4 separate regions of the Homo sapiens genome follow, and all the other regions are reported to be linked to region 4. Evidence: microRNA targets listed by miRTarBase, many of them from high-throughput screens and not tested one by one. Region 4 holds a microRNA gene; each other region holds the end of a gene's coding sequence.
Evidence for each region. The annotated mature microRNA hsa-miR-450a-2-3p reads AUUGGGGACAUUUUGCAUUCAU and lies in region 4 at 2,760-2,781, opposite strand. An mRNA with a match to its seed (bases 2 to 7 or 8) in the 3' UTR can be bound and repressed. Matches are read on the target gene's strand: a 7mer-m8 pairs with bases 2 to 8, a 7mer-A1 pairs with bases 2 to 7 and ends in A, and an 8mer does both.

Region 1: the mRNA of PER1 is a reported target of hsa-miR-450a-2-3p. The part of its 3' UTR that is shown has no 7-base or 8-base seed match.
Region 2: the mRNA of USP44 is a reported target of hsa-miR-450a-2-3p. Seed matches in the 3' UTR shown: 7mer-A1 at 1,372-1,378.
Region 3: miRTarBase lists BCL11A as a target of hsa-miR-450a-2-3p. The part of its 3' UTR that is shown has no 7-base or 8-base seed match.

What each region holds. Positions count from the first base shown.
Region 1 is chr17:8,137,296-8,141,462 of GRCh38, reverse strand. PER1 (period circadian regulator 1) reads left to right here. Exons shown (of 23, transcript NM_002616.3): 23 at 123-991. The coding sequence ends at 395. TRS-CGA1-1 (tRNA-Ser (anticodon CGA) 1-1) reads left to right here and starts at 2,501; the gene lies at 2,501-2,582. TRT-AGT5-1 (tRNA-Thr (anticodon AGT) 5-1) reads left to right here and starts at 1,938; the gene lies at 1,938-2,011. RefSeq lists an enhancer at 896-1,574 and silencers at 1,972-2,021, 2,382-2,551, 2,572-2,631.
Region 2 is chr12:95,514,806-95,518,972 of GRCh38, reverse strand. It overlaps USP44 (ubiquitin specific peptidase 44), which reads left to right. Exons shown (of 6, transcript NM_032147.5): 6 at 620-2,413. The coding sequence ends at 819. METAP2 (methionyl aminopeptidase 2) reads right to left here. Exons shown (of 11, transcript NM_006838.4): 11 at 3,134-4,167. Among named protein-coding and RNA genes, the nearest start is that of USP44, 35 kb to the left of the region's middle.
Region 3 is chr2:60,456,922-60,461,088 of GRCh38, reverse strand. BCL11A (BCL11 transcription factor A) reads left to right here. Exons shown (of 4, transcript NM_022893.4): 4 at 1-3,895. The coding sequence ends at 685. Among named protein-coding and RNA genes, the nearest start is that of MIR4432HG, 68 kb to the right of the region's middle.
Region 4 is chrX:134,537,770-134,541,936 of GRCh38, forward strand. MIR450A2 (microRNA 450a-2) reads right to left here and starts at 2,838; the gene lies at 2,739-2,838. It overlaps MIR450B (microRNA 450b), which reads right to left and starts at 2,493; the gene lies at 2,416-2,493. It overlaps MIR450A1 (microRNA 450a-1), which reads right to left and starts at 2,662; the gene lies at 2,572-2,662. MIR542 (microRNA 542) reads right to left here and starts at 3,668; the gene lies at 3,572-3,668.

The DNA of each region.
Region 1 (4,167 bases), not on the chromosome of region 4:
TGGACTGGTGCTTCTTGGGAGTACATTTCGGGAAGCACAGTGGGCTGGGGGTGGGAAGCTGCGCTGGCAGGTTAGCAGTGAGAACCCTGTCTGACTCTCTCATGTCCATTTCTCTCACCAAGGCCTGTGTGGACTGTGGGAGCAGCACCCAAGATCCTGGTCACCCTGATGACCCACTCTTCTCAGAGCTGGATGGACTGGGGCTGGAGCCCATGGAAGAGGGTGGAGGCGAGCAGGGCAGCAGCGGTGGCGGCAGTGGTGAGGGAGAGGGCTGCGAGGAGGCCCAAGGCGGGGCCAAGGCTTCAAGCTCTCAGGACTTGGCTATGGAGGAGGAGGAAGAAGGCAGGAGCTCATCCAGTCCAGCCTTACCTACAGCAGGAAACTGCACCAGCTAGACTCCATTCTGGGACCATCTCCAGGAGTCCATGAGAGGCTTTCTTCTCCTATGTCCCAATTCTCAGAACTCAGATGTGGCTAGACCAACCAGTGGGAAACTGCCCCAGCTTCTCCCACCATAGGGGGCCGGACCCCCATCACCAGCCTAGGATCCAGGGGCTGCCTCTGGCCTCTTAGGGAGCAGAGAGCAGAACTCCGCAGCCCAGCCCAGAGGAGTGTCACCTCCCACCTTTGGAGAGGAATCCTTCCCTCCCCTGGACAAAGTTGCTGACAAGCTGCTGAAGTGGCCTCTCCATATTCCAGCTGAGCCTGAATCTGACTCTTGAGGGTTGGGGCTGCACTTATTTATTGCGGGGAGACAGCTCTCTCTCCCACCTCCTCCCCAGATGGGAGGAGAGCCTGAGGCCCAAGCAGGACCCGGGGGTTCCAGCCCCTAGCTGCTCTGGAGTGGGGGAGGTTGGTGGACCATGGAGTCCCTGGTGCTGCCCCTCAGGTGGGACCCAGGCGTTCTCAGCTGTACCCTCTGCCGATGGCATTTGTGTTTTTGATATTTGTGTCTGTTACTACTTTTTTAATACAAAAAGATAAAAACGCCCAGGACTTTGTGGAATGAAGTTTGGGGTTGGGGTGAGGGGAGCATGTCAAGGGGAGATGTGGCCCTGCTTTTGGGAAGGTTGTAGTGAGGGTGTACAGGGCCATCTCCTGACGACCCCCATTCCTCTTTTCCCCCATCCTGTCCAGGTGAGGGCCCTGCTGAGCCCGCTACGTCCACGTCCAGCTCAGACTCTGCTGTCCCCTCTAGCATGGCCTCAGCTGGGTTTGCCCTGGGAAGGAGAGCTGAGAGGTGCGTGTGGCCAAGGGCTTGGGTAAGCTCCAGCCCGGGTCACGGGTGGCCAAGGCAGAGGAACCCTGCTTAACTCCGTGGTGCCCTGAGGTATTCGAGGGTGTTTGTCTTCCTTGGCTTCCTTTTTTTTATTTGAGACGGAATTTCGCTCTGTCACCCAGCTGGAGTGCAATGGTGCAATCTCGGCTCGCTGCAACGTCTGCCTCCCGGGTTCAAGCGATTCTCCTGCCTCAGCCTCCCGAGTAGCTGGGATTATAGGTGCCCACCACCGCGCCCGGCTAATTTTGTATTTTTAGTAGCGATGGGGTTTCACCATTTTTGGTCAGGCTGGTCGCGGACTCCTGACCTTAGGTGATCTGCCCGCCTTGGCCTCCCAAAGTGCTGGGATTACAGGCGTGAGCCACCGCGCCCGGCCTTCCTTGGCTTCTTGGTCACCACACAGAGAGGGCCCTTCAGCAGGTCAGTCTAGGTAGCTAAGGGACACATGGAGTCATGTGCTCACTCATGGTTGAGTTGGCCCCAAAGGTGTGGAAGAATGGAGAAGCAAAGCATTAACCCTTTGGCTCAGAACCTGAAAGGGAAGAGGCACCTTAGGAAGGGATGAGTCACTGAGGAACCACTGCAGGCAGTTTGCTGATTTTCACTTACTGTCACCCACTAAGAGTTGATTTATCTTGAGGAACACCTGTTTTACGCCGGCGCCGTGGCTTAGCTGGTTAAAGCGCCTGTCTAGTAAACAGGAGATCCTGGGTTCGAATCCCAGCGGTGCCTGAGTTAGCGGGGAGTGATATATTATTGCTGCAAGTACACTTCTCCACTTTCAAAGGGCCTTTCTAAGAAACATTTCTTCTAGACTCTCCCTAAGATTCTTCTTACATGCCAATCCGTCTTTGGACCTCCGTTTCCCTGCACTTTTAGTGTGTATTGGAAACTACAGATTCTCACTTCGGTTTCATGAAGTAGCCTGAAGTAGGCATCTCAGGGTCTGTCCTCAAGAGTATGGAAGACAGGGCTCGGATTTGGACCCGTTTTGTTTCCATCCTATGCTCAGGGAGGAGAGGGAGAATAGGAAGGCTGCCGCTCCAATGGGGCTGCTGACGTCTGCTGGAGGGAAGGCATGGTCTGCGCCACCGAGCAGAGGCGCACGAGCGCAGACGTCTCTAGGCGGCGCGGGTGGAGCCGGGCGGAGCCGGGCGGAGCCGGCTGGAGGCGGGCGTGTTGATAGGCAGCTATAGTTGCACAGGGCCGACAGCGCACGCGGCTGTGATGGCCGAGTGGTTAAGGCGTTGGACTCGAAATCCAATGGGGTCTCCCCGCGCAGGTTCGAATCCTGCTCACAGCGTCACTAGTTTTGGTATTTAGGTATCTCGGTCTCTGGAGAAGGAAAAAGCAGTTTGTTTTCTGGTTCTTTCCTTGGAGAATCTCCCGCGTTATTCTGAGAATCTCAGAGACTCGGCCGTCAGGGACCAGCCCGCGAGCGCCCTCTTGCGATTCTCATAGTCCTATCGACCTGCAAAAACTTTTTTACTGCGGATTTCAATTCCTAACGCCACCACACTCGGGTGGCTCCTTAGTGCTACTCAGCAATCGTTACTTTCCTCCAATTCATTCACTCTCATACTGCCCCATGAGACTGTTTCATTCCTACCCTCACCTCAAACTACGAATCCCTTCTCAGCTTTTACTTCCTGATTCACTGAGAAAATAAACCATTCCGGAGTTCCCCATCAACATTCACATCGCACCTACCTACCTACCTACCTAATTGAGTCGGTGACCACGTACTCTTCTTTTCCTTCATTATTGTAGAAGAATGCTTCCACCTAAAGCCAACCCCTACTTTTACTAGATTTCCCATCCCTCTGGCCATCTCAAAGACACTGCTTTTTCCTATACCATCAAAATTTCCCTCTCAGCCGGGCGTAGTGGCTCACGCCTGTAATCTCAACACTTTGGGAGGCTTGACGGGTGGATCACTTGAGGTCAGGAGTCCGAGACCAGTGAAACCCCAATCTCTACTAAAAATACAAAATTAGCCGGGCGTGGTGGCTGACGCACGCCTGTAATCCCAGCTACTCGGGAGGCTGAGGCAGCAGAAGCTCTTGAATCCGGGAGACGAAGGTCGCGCCATTGCACTCCAGCCTGGGCAACAATAGCAAAACTCCATCTCAAAAAAAAAAAAATCCCTCTCTACTTGATTTTTCTCTTCAGCCTACAGACACTAATTTCCCCCAATTTAGAAGCAAGACAACAAAAGCTATCTTGACCCCACACGCCTGTCCAGCTACCACTCAATTTCTCTACTCCCTTCTACAGCAAACAGAGCAAGTTATCCAATTCCATCTTCCCACTCTCCTTTGGACCCTTGCTAATCAGGTGTCCACCGCCCCCATCAAAGCTGCCCTTGTTAAGGTTGCCGAATGATCATCACATTGCTAAATCTATTGACCATTACTTCGTGGAAGCTGATACCGATGCTCACTCTTCCATTAGAAACACTCTTCGCTTGCCTTCTAGGACACTACGTCCTTCTGATATTCCTTCTACTTCATCAGCAGCTTATTCTCAGACTTCTTTGCTGTTCCTCACCTTCTGGATCTCTAAATGTTGGACTGTTCCCAAGGCTCAATTTTCCAACCTCTTCTCTATCTGTACCCACTACCTTGGTCATTTCCAGTTTCATGGCTTTAAATATCAGGTAATACATTAATACATCCCAGATTTTCATCTCCAGCTCCAGAACTCCCCCCTGAGTTACAGATGCTTATGTATTATTGCCCACATATCATCTACACTTGGAAAAAGCTAATACAGATCACAAACTTAAAATGTGCAAACCAAGGCCGGGCGCGGTGTCTCGTGCCTGTAATCCCAGCACTTTGGGAGGCCGAGGCGGGCGGCTCACCTGAGGTCGGGAGTTCGAGACT
Region 2 (4,167 bases), not on the chromosome of region 4:
TTGGCACAAAAAGTTTTGGTTTGGAATTTTTTTTTTTAAGACAGTCCCTCTATCACCCAGGCTTGAGGGCAAGCTGCGCCATCCTTGCTCACTGCAACCTCTGCCTCCCAGGTTCAAGCCATTCTCTTGCTTCAGCCTCCTGAGTAGCTGGGAATTCAGGTGTGCACCACCACGCCTGGCGAATTTTTGTATTTTTAGTAGAGACAGGTTTCACCATGTTGGCCAGGCTGGTCTCTAACTCCTGGCCTCAGGTGATCTGCCTGCCTCGGCCTTCCAAAGTGCTAGGATTACAGGCATGAGCCACCATGCCTGGCCAGATTTTGGAATTAGGGATGATCATCCTGTATGATTAGTGGCAAAAGCATTAACTGGTAGATTTACACAAAGAATAAATAGTGTCAGGTACTCTAATCAGTCACATGCTGTGAAAAACTTAAGCTACTTTTAGAATAAAGGTAGATAATTCCAGGGTAACACTGCCCAATCTATATTTCTCATTAAAGAAAAATGAATTGGCTAGAAAATTATTTTCCCTTCAGAAAAAGCTTCTCACTCAATGCCTTTCATACTAGAATTTTCTAAAGTCCCTTCATAAATGTATTTCTGTGCTTCACTCTAGGGTTCTGGGTACACTGCAATGATTCCAAACTAAGCATGTGCACTATGGATGAAGTATGCAAGGCTCAAGCTTATATCTTGTTTTATACCCAACGAGTTACTGAGAATGGACATTCTAAACTTTTGCCTCCAGAGCTCCTGTTGGGGAGCCAACATCCCAATGAAGACGCTGATACCTCGTCTAATGAAATCCTTAGCTGATCCAAAGACAATGGGGTTTTCTTCCTGTGATTTATATATATACTTTTTAAAAGACTGATGTACCATTTTAAACTTCATTTTTTCTTGTGAATCAGTGTATACTACATTTATACATTTTATATCTAACAATTTTTTTTTTTACAAAGTATAAATGTATATATCAACTGAAGGTAACTACTTTTTTCATATTTGGAGTTTTAAACTTTTGGTGTTTACCTCAGACTGATGTTACCTCTTTTATATTTTTATGTCTTAATTGGCTCGGATGATGAACTTGTGCAATCTTCTACCAACAAAGTTCAAGTGGCATCATTTTATATACATGTATCTTTTTCAGGTATTTTCTATACAAATTCTTAATAGATGGAAAATTAGACTCTACTTTGGTCACTAATAGTCTTTCATTTGTATATTGAAGTTACCTTGCCCCTTGGAGTTATTGAAGTGACATGTCAAGGTATCACCTAAATATTCTTCAGTCACACTCACTGGTATTTCTGAGGCTTTGTGTGTTAACAGGCCTTGTAATTGACATTATTTTGGTTAATGTAACCCCAAAATTGCTTTAGTAATTGCTCTTTGGCATAGTCAAACTATAAATGAAAATGGCAGCTTTACAAATAGTATATTTAAGTGAACTCTGGAACTATGGACATGAAAAAAATGATGGCTGGGATTTATGATTTTTGTCTGGCAGCAAACAGGTTTGTCCAGAAGTCTAATAATTAAGCAGTCATAAAAAGTCTGAATTTAGTAAACCAGTGTATGATGTTATTCAAATAGTTTACCTTGGGTATGAGTTCATTTTATAATGTCTGATGACATTAGATCTCTTAAAACTTTATGTATTTTTTTTAGTTCAAAGGAATAGAGTCTTGAAGAGAAAAAATTATAGGGCAGAAAAGATAAGTGTTCAAAATTGGCAACTGGACTATTATTATGTCTAGCATCTCATTCTAAATAACTAAAGCTTGATTTACTCTTGCTAGGATTATGTGACTACTAGGTAGGAGCCTCTTAAAACACTGGCCCTGAGCATTAAAAAAAAAAAAAAAAACTAAAAGCTATCTATCTAAACTTGCACAAAAAAAAATACAGTGTGAGTCACTCTTTTTCTTCTTCTGATAATCTCACTGGGTTTCTTTAAAGTCCTGTTGCTGCTAACTTTATCTTATTTGGAGAGGGTAGAATCAACTAATCTCTGTAGACCAGCTATGTATCTAAGCTCTGTTAACCACAGGAAGATCATGTATCCCTTTTTTATAAGTGGGTTTATTTGCAGGTTGAAGTCTTAGTGAAAGATAGTATCCTGTAGAATGCTGTTCACCACTAGTGATCATCTGTTAAGTACAAACTTGAAAGAGGTCTCTACCAATAAATTTTTCTTAAATTTCACAAAACAAGTCATCTGGGTTAGCTGATAGTGAGGTGCAGTGAGACTTTTATCACTGAATAGACAAATCATTTGTGCCGAAAATACATCTGGAATATTAAATGGCTATGTTTAAAATTGTTCATAATACCTATGCAAGTTGTTACCTCAACTGTTACACACTTCTTAATACCTCATTAAAAATTTACATGGTCAAGATAACCAGAGTCTACTCTTTTCTAATTTCAAGGACTATTTTTAACGTTATACATTTTAGCACGTCATTTTAATGGAACTGTAAAAACTCCTGAGCTATTTGTAATGGTATCGTTGCTTGTACTTATTTCAATATAAAAACATACAAGAGGCCGGACGCCATGGCTCATGCCTGTAATCCCAGCACTTTGGAAGGCCGAGGCGGGCAGATCACAAGGTCAGGAGATCAAGACCATCCTGGCTAACACAGTGAAACCCCATCTCTACTAAAAATACAAAAAAAAAAAAAATTAGCCAGGCGTGGTAGCATGCATCTATAGTCCAGCTACTCAGGAGGCTGAGGCAGGAGAATAGCTTGAACCCGGCTGCAGTGAGCTGAGATCGCGCCACTGCACTCCAGCCTGGGTGACAGAGCGAGACTCCCGCTAAAAAAAAAAAAAAAAAAAAAAAAAAAAAAAACAAAGTGACTTAGCCCTTTACTTTTTAATCCCTTAAAACTAACAAACACCTATGGGGGGAGGCTTGGAAAAGGGGGATATTATTGGGGGGGGGTCTGGGAAATCTGTAGTACTTTCCACTAAATTTTAGTGTGAAAAATGTCTCAAAATACCAACAATAAAATTAAAACCTAAACAATAAACAGAAACTTAGATTTCTTACTATTTATCTTAAATCTCAACATGGACGTCTACATTCTGCTAAGTTGATCTAACAAAAAACAACATGTTTTAGTTGTAAAATAATTTACTAAAGGCACTATTGTTAAACATCAAACTAATAACTTGTTGCCAATAAGGTACATCGTTGTAAACATAACAAAATTTTAAGAGATACATGGCTAATAAGCAAACAATACAATTTTTAGTTACAGCTTTCCTACTTACAAGATCATGTCCCTTCCAGCCATTACAAGGGCATACAGTGATGCCATTGCTCCCAACAGTTACCTGGGAAGGGAGCTTGGAGCTCCTAATTGGTTTGAGATCATGACTGCCAAGGTCTTTAAAAGCTCCAAAAGTCTTCACTCATAAAGGTCAATTCTAAAATTGCTGGGTTTAGAAATCAAGATACTTGCTTTATACTTCCACATCAAAAAGATACGGACTCAACCCCAAAGGAGCTAGCTGGAGGGCCCAGCCCTGACAGTATGTCCAGGCATGAACTGGCGAGCTCTGCTGCTAGCCACAGCATCACAGAGAATGGAGACATTAGTCAAATGTGGCTACTGAACATTAGCACCATAATAAACATAGCTCATACAGCTAAAACCTAGATTGTTTCCCGACAAGGTAACATTCATTTATAGCTCTAATGCTGAAAGAGCAGCTTTTTAATGTAACAGATGATCTAGGTACACAAGTCATAGGTTTCTCTTCCTAGGATAAAAACGTTCAACAAAATACAAACTAAACAGCATCCCAGAGGCAATAAAATCTCATTGTACTGAAACATATACAAATTAAGGCTACCTTGATATATAAATGATTTAGAAATTATGATGGAACATTCCCATAAAATTATTTAAATATAAGAATTCAATTTGTCAAAGAATCAGTAGTGGGCCTCAGTTCAAACAAATTAATATTACCATCGTTACATTCAACTTAATACACTTAGCCGCTATAAGGAAAGTAACTGTAACGTCACTTCCTGAAATACCACTAGTAATGTTAAGAATCCAAACCTGTCAAAGGGGAAGGTATTACAGCATTTGCCTCATGAATGAAAAAGTCCAAGAATTTCAACTTAATTTTTCTAAC
Region 3 (4,167 bases), not on the chromosome of region 4:
CCCGGGCGAGTCGGCCTCGGGGGGCCTGTCCAAAAAGCTGCTGCTGGGCAGCCCCAGCTCGCTGAGCCCCTTCTCTAAGCGCATCAAGCTCGAGAAGGAGTTCGACCTGCCCCCGGCCGCGATGCCCAACACGGAGAACGTGTACTCGCAGTGGCTCGCCGGCTACGCGGCCTCCAGGCAGCTCAAAGATCCCTTCCTTAGCTTCGGAGACTCCAGACAATCGCCTTTTGCCTCCTCGTCGGAGCACTCCTCGGAGAACGGGAGTTTGCGCTTCTCCACACCGCCCGGGGAGCTGGACGGAGGGATCTCGGGGCGCAGCGGCACGGGAAGTGGAGGGAGCACGCCCCATATTAGTGGTCCGGGCCCGGGCAGGCCCAGCTCAAAAGAGGGCAGACGCAGCGACACTTGTGAGTACTGTGGGAAAGTCTTCAAGAACTGTAGCAATCTCACTGTCCACAGGAGAAGCCACACGGGCGAAAGGCCTTATAAATGCGAGCTGTGCAACTATGCCTGTGCCCAGAGTAGCAAGCTCACCAGGCACATGAAAACGCATGGCCAGGTGGGGAAGGACGTTTACAAATGTGAAATTTGTAAGATGCCTTTTAGCGTGTACAGTACCCTGGAGAAACACATGAAAAAATGGCACAGTGATCGAGTGTTGAATAATGATATAAAAACTGAATAGAGGTATATTAATACCCCTCCCTCACTCCCACCTGACACCCCCTTTTTCACCACTCCCCTTCCCCATCGCCCTCCAGCCCCACTCCCTGTAGGATTTTTTTCTAGTCCCATGTGATTTAAACAAACAAACAAACAAACAGAAGTAACGAAGCTAAGAATATGAGAGTGCTTGTCACCAGCACACCTGTTTTTTTTCTTTTTCTTTTTCTTTTTTCTTTTTCCTTTTTTTTTTTTTTCCTTTATGTTCTCACCGTTTGAATGCATGATCTGTATGGGGCAATACTATTGCATTTTACGCAAACTTTGAGCCTTTCTCTTGTGCAATAATTTACATGTTGTGTATGTTTTTTTTTAAACTTAGACAGCATGTATGGTATGTTATGGCTATTTTAAATTGTCCCTAATTCGTTGCTGAGCAAACATGTTGCTGTTTCCAGTTCCGTTCTGAGAGAAAAAGAGAGAGAGAGAGAAAAAGACCATGCTGCATACATTCTGTAATACATATCATGTACAGTTTTATTTTATAACGTGAGGAGGAAAAACAGTCTTTGGATTAACCCTCTATAGACAGAATAGATAGCACTGAAAAAAAATCTCTATGAGCTAAATGTCTGTCTCTAAAGGGTTAAATGTATCAATTGGAAAGGAAGAAAAAAGGCCTTGAATTGACAAATTAACAGAAAAACAGAACAAGTTTATTCTATCATTTGGTTTTAAAATATGAGTGCCTTGGATCTATTAAAACCACATCGATGGTTCTTTCTACTTGTTATAAACTTGTAGCTTAATTCAGCATTGGGTGAGGTAATAAACCTTAGGAACTAGCATATAATTCTATATTGTATTTCTCACAACAATGGCTACCTAAAAAGATGACCCATTATGTCCTAGTTAATCATCATTTTTCCTTTAGTTTAATTTTATAAACAAAACTGATTATACCAGTATAAAAGCTACTTTGCTCCTGGTGAGAGCTTAAAAGAAATGGGCTGTTTTGCCCAAAGTTTTATTTTTTTTAAACAATGATTAAATTGAATGTGTAATGTGCAAAAGCCCTGGAACGCAATTAAATACACTAGTAAGGAGTTCATTTTATGAAGATATTTGCTTTAATAATGTCTTTTTAAAAATACTGGCACCAAAAGAAATAGATCCAGATCTACTTGGTTGTCAAGTGGACAATCAAATGATAAACTTTAAGACCTTGTATACCATATTGAAAGGAAGAGGCTGACAATAAGGTTTGACAGAGGGGAACAGAAGAAAATAATATGATTTATTAGCACAACGTGGTACTATTTGCCATTTAAAACTAGAACAGGTATATAAGCTAATATTGATACAATGATGATTAACTATGAATTCTTAAGACTTGCATTTAAATGTGACATTCTTAAAAAAAGAAGAGAAAGAATTTTAAGAGTAGCAGTATATATGTCTGTGCTCCCTAAAAGTTGTACTTCATTTCTTTTCCATACACTGTGTGCTATTTGTGTTAACATGGAAGAGGATTCATTGTTTTTATTTTTATTTTTTTAATTTTTTCTTTTTTATTAAGCTAGCATCTGCCCCAGTTGGTGTTCAAATAGCACTTGACTCTGCCTGTGATATCTGTATCTTTTCTCTAATCAGAGATACAGAGGTTGAGTATAAAATAAACCTGCTCAGATAGGACAATTAAGTGCACTGTACAATTTTCCCAGTTTACAGGTCTATACTTAAGGGAAAAGTTGCAAGAATGCTGAAAAAAAATTGAACACAATCTCATTGAGGAGCATTTTTTAAAAACTAAAAAAAAAAAAACTTTGCCAGCCATTTACTTGACTATTGAGCTTACTTACTTGGACGCAACATTGCAAGCGCTGTGAATGGAAACAGAATACACTTAACATAGAAATGAATGATTGCTTTCGCTTCTACAGTGCAAGGATTTTTTTGTACAAAACTTTTTTAAATATAAATGTTAAGAAAAATTTTTTTTAAAAAACACTTCATTATGTTTAGGGGGGAACTGCATTTTAGGGTTCCATTGTCTTGGTGGTGTTACAAGACTTGTTATCCATTTAAAAATGGTAGTGGAAATTCTATGCCTTGGATACACACCGCTCTTCAGGTTGTAAAAAAAAAAAACATACATTGGGGAAAGGTTTAAGATTATATAGTACTTAAATATAGGAAAATGCACACTCATGTTGATTCCTATGCTAAAATACATTTATGGTCTTTTTTCTGTATTTCTAGAATGGTATTTGAATTAAATGTTCATCTAGTGTTAGGCACTATAGTATTTATATTGAAGCTTGTATTTTTAACTGTTGCTTGTTCTCTTAAAAGGTATCAATGTACCTTTTTTGGTAGTGGAAAAAAAAAAGACAGGCTGCCACAGTATATTTTTTTAATTTGGCAGGATAATATAGTGCAAATTATTTGTATGCTTCAAAAAAAAAAAAAAGAGAGAAACAAAAAAGTGTGACATTACAGATGAGAAGCCATATAATGGCGGTTTGGGGGAGCCTGCTAGAATGTCACATGGATGGCTGTCATAGGGGTTGTACATATCCTTTTTTGTTCCTTTTTCCTGCTGCCATACTGTATGCAGTACTGCAAGCTAATAACGTTGGTTTGTTATGTAGTGTGCTTTTTGTCCCTTTCCTTCTATCACCCTACATTCCAGCATCTTACCTTCATATGCAGTAAAAGAAAGAAAGAAAAAAAAAGGAAAAAAAAAAAAAAACCAATGTTTTGCAGTTTTTTTCATTGCCAAAAACTAAATGGTGCTTTATATTTAGATTGGAAAGAATTTCATATGCAAAGCATATTAAAGAGAAAGCCCGCTTTAGTCAATACTTTTTTGTAAATGGCAATGCAGAATATTTTGTTATTGGCCTTTTCTATTCCTGTAATGAAAGCTGTTTGTCGTAACTTGAAATTTTATCTTTTACTATGGGAGTCACTATTTATTATTGCTTATGTGCCCTGTTCAAAACAGAGGCACTTAATTTGATCTTTTATTTTTCTTTGTTTTTATTTTTTTTTTTATTTAGATGACCAAAGGTCATTACAACCTGGCTTTTTATTGTATTTGTTTCTGGTCTTTGTTAAGTTCTATTGGAAAAACCACTGTCTGTGTTTTTTTGGCAGTTGTCTGCATTAACCTGTTCATACACCCATTTTGTCCCTTTATTGAAAAAATAAAAAAAATTAAAGTACACATTGTAAGCTTCTTGTGTCCTCATTTGACACACTCTGTAAATTACTTGCAAGAAAATAACAGGTTTTAAGAGAAGGCCAGTCAGTCTTTTTCAGGATTATTTCTATGGGCATTCTGATGCGTGTATTATACCCTAAAGGAACATAAAGTACTTACTATATTAAAATAGACATATCTCAAACCCTGGACATAGTTTTAAGGCTTTCCAGTTTAGAATAGTTTTCAAGAAATGGAAGGTGTTTTCAGTCTGATGTTAAAAACTTACTCCATCT
Region 4 (4,167 bases):
TCATCAAGTCCCATATCCTTCATAGAGTCTTTCCAAGTCACTCCCTGTGTCCTTTAGACCCAGTATATTACAATGGAAAAAGCCCTGAAGCTCAAGGTTCAAGTTGTAACATTGCCCAATTCTCTGCACGACCTCTCTGCAACTTATTTTCTCTCTCTGCAACTTGGTTTTCTCTTCTGTAAAATGAGGGGCTGGACTTGTGTAAAATGAGGGTTTGTACCCTGTTAACAAAGGGAAGCCCTCAGCACCTTCTGCACCTGCCCCTCCTCAACCCCTCTTGGCATACTTCCAACTCTGAGAAGCAATCTCTGTACTGGCCAAATTCTAGGACATTTCACTGGTTCAGAAATTCAGCCGGGCGCAGGGGCTCACGCCTGTAATCCCAATACTTTGGGAGGCTGAGGTGGGAGTATCGCTTGAGCCCAGGAGTTCAAGACTAGCCTGGGCGATATAGTGAGACCCTGTCTCTCTGTCTTTCTCTATATATACATATATAGAAAGAAATTCAGGGGCTGAAGATTTTTTTTTCACTGGTCAACGAAAGGGGCTTAAGATCAATGCTCAATTTGGAATGATTTCTCTCTCTCTCTCTTTCTCAGCCCTAGAGGCGAGACCTCCCATTTAGAAAGGGGTCCCTCCCACACTCTGCCCCTATTCCATACATTTTGTCCAGCAGGGACTAGAGTGAGCCCTAGGGGAAAGGAGGCCACTTAGATGGTTGCTTAGCAAAGCAGATTCTCTGTGTGGTCTGACCTGGCTCAGACGAAGGTCAAAGCCTCAGCTGATCCCTGCTCTGTACCCAGTGGCAGACAAAGTATTCGTGTGTTCAAGGCCTCTCTGGCTCAGTATCACCTTAACCTCCGCTTCTCCCCTACCCGCTCCTCTATCCACAAGTAACTAGCACAGAGGTAGGCACCCAGTAAATATGCTCTGATTGACAGAGTGTGGCAGATAAAAATGCTTATGCTCCTTAAAGAGGAGTACACACATTTAAGCATGGGGACCAGTTTGGTTGTATGATTGTATGTTCTTAAGCAGAACAAGGGCAGGGCATCAGAAAATTGGAGGAATGGTCTCCTGTATCTTTGTAAATGGATATGTGTATATATATTTGCCTCACAACTCAGCTTCTCCTTTAAGGAATATGATGGATCTATTTTGAAAGTAATGTCGGCCGGGCACGGTGGCTCACGCCTGTAATCCCAGCACTTTGGGAGGCCAAGGTGGGCAGATCACGAGATCAGGAGATCGAGACCATCCTGGCTAACACAGTGAAACCCGTCTCTACTAAAAATACAAAAAAATTAGCCAGGCAAGGTGGCGGGCACCTGTAATCCCAGCTACTTGGGAGGCTGAGGCAGGAGAATCGCTTGAACCTGGGAGGCAGAGCTTGCAGTGAGCTGAGATCGCACCATTGCACTCCAGCCAGGGTGACAGAGCCAGCCAGACTCCGTCTCAAAAAAAAAAAAAAAAAAAAGAAAGTAATGTCTAGTCATATGGACTTGCTAGAGTGCCAAATATGTCCTTGGTGGGGGAACAGTTTCCCAAAATGCTACTAAAAAGATAGGAAGGAACTTAGATCCTCCTGTAATGTGTCTCTGTCCAAATCAGTGCCACTGAGGAACGCTAAAACCTTGGTAGGTGCCCTTCAGACCATGGGCCAGGTACGTGACCAAATGGTTCCATCTCTTACCAGAACAAGGATCGCCTAAATTGAGGTGTCACATGTGTTCTGCAACACCAGAGTTACTATGGAGCTCAGCTGAATTTGCGGGAAAATGCAGGGGGGGCTTTACCCGCATCTGCAAGAAGTTGGCTGAGTGGAAATAACCTAAATAAGGTGTTTTCCTGACTTGGGCATATCTCAAACTGGCCAATGCGTCTTGAGGCCCTGGGCGAGCATCCAAGTACCACCTTCCTGAATTGCTACTAGAGGAAAAGGAGCCTGTTTCAGCTTTCTATACTTCTTTAAATGTTACTTTGATTAGACATAGATAGCAGTTTGTTTACTAATATTACTATTATAACTCTGTCGTGGTTATATTTTTTAGTTATACTTTCTCTTTTCTTTGCCAAGAGCAAATGAAAACACATTTGCACTGCAGATCCAACTGAAGTTGTACAAAGGTTTCCCAGATATGTTTGAAAAAGTATTCTAGGCCCACTGCTGGCCAAATAGGAAGTCTTCCCCCACCCTTATGTCAGGGGTTCATGCTTTAAAAAAAATACAAACTCTTTTTAAAAATAAAATGTTTTATTATTGCTATAAAAGCAATGCATTTTATTGTTTATGCAAATATTACTTGGAAAATACATAAAAGTATAAAGAGAAAAACAAACATTACCTATAATTTTATACTATAATACTGTTACAAGTTTTGGTATATTTCTTCCTAGACTTTTCTCCATATGTTGATACAAAACTATGGATGCAAAATGATCCCAATACACTTATATTACATATTCAGGAACATATTGCAAAAATAATTCTGCATCTTACATTTATCACAGAAGTAAACCACAGATAGCCGCTGTTAGATTTTTTGCTTATTCCCTCCATCTTTTCATCTGTATATTGATACAAAACTATACATGCAAAATGTTCCCAATATATTTATAGTGCATATTAGGAACACATCGCAAAAACAGTTTAGTATCGTTTTTGATTGCCTATAGTGACACAAGTCAGCGATAACCACCTCTAGACTTTTGGTATACTTCCTGATAGCCTCTTTTCCCCATATTATTGATACAAAACTATGAATGCAAAATGTCCCCAATACATTTATATTACATATTAGGAACACATCGCAAAAATAGTTTAGCATCTTTCTTTGGTCACCTTTATACCACAACTCAGAGATAATCACAATAAAGTTTTTATATGTTTCCTCCTAGCCTTTTATCTGTATGTTGATACAAAACTATTCATACAGAATGCTCCCTATATACCTATATTGCAGAGATGGGAAAATATTTTGCACCTTTTTTCAATCGCTAAATGTTTTATCAGGAGCACATTCTCATGACATGAAAATTACTTTCAGAAACATTATTTTACATGAAAGCATCCTATTCTATTGTACTAGCTAGCTACGCTGTATTTTATTTGTCTAATCCTTTGTTGTTGGTCATTCAGGATGTTCCTAACTTCCATCCTTAAAATATTGAAATGAGCATCTTTATGCATTTTTTTTAACTGGGGCTTTCTGTTCATGTAGTTTTTATGGTTTTTCTTGACCACTTGTGTGGACTCAACATACTAAAAATGACCCTGTGTCTGTAATGCTTATAGCAAAGTGTTTTCCAGTTGTTTGCTTGAGCATAAATTCTTTATTTTAGCATTCTAGCACAAGTATAAAATCATATACCTTATGTAAGTTTCAATTCATTCAACAAACATTTAAAGCAATAAAGACACAAATAAAGGCATTCCCATTACACTCCTATGAAAACACAACTCATCCTCCCACCCCATCCCATAGCAACCCCTTTCTTCTTTGCTTAGGGCCCACTTTCCTCCTGATCTTTTCATTGATTCGTCTTGTAATACTTACCACATGTTTTGCTATGAAGATGAGTGGCTCCCAGACCTTTCAGTTATCAATCTGTCACAAGTGCACACTGGTATCTCGTGACATGATGATCCCCGAGATGTCTGAGATCTGTGCATCCTTGACCGATCCCAAATTTCTGTATCACCCATGACCCCTAAAGACTTTTTAGAGAATTATATTTTGACAACATAACAAGAAAACGTGGCATCTCACACACACACACACACACACACACACACACACACACACACACACACAAAACCATGAAAAAGTAGAGAAAGAAGAAACTTCAGCTCTAATCCCACCACCCTTAAGTAACAAGTATGTCTGTTTTGCAGGTTTCCTCCAGGTTCTGCTCCTATTTTTCAATCATGGTGTCCATGTGATTTTGTGGCCCTGATTTTTTTTAAGTTGATATCATAAGCATTTTCCAGGTTTCTGTATATTCTCTATCATTATTATTTGCAATGGCTGAAAAAGGTTCCATTGAGTGAGTGACTAGATTAAGTCAACCCCTATAGCTTGACACTTCATTTGTTTCCTTAAGATAATTTGATTGAATCTACAGAAAATAACAAACATGGGACAGAGGTTTAAAATGAATTTAAAT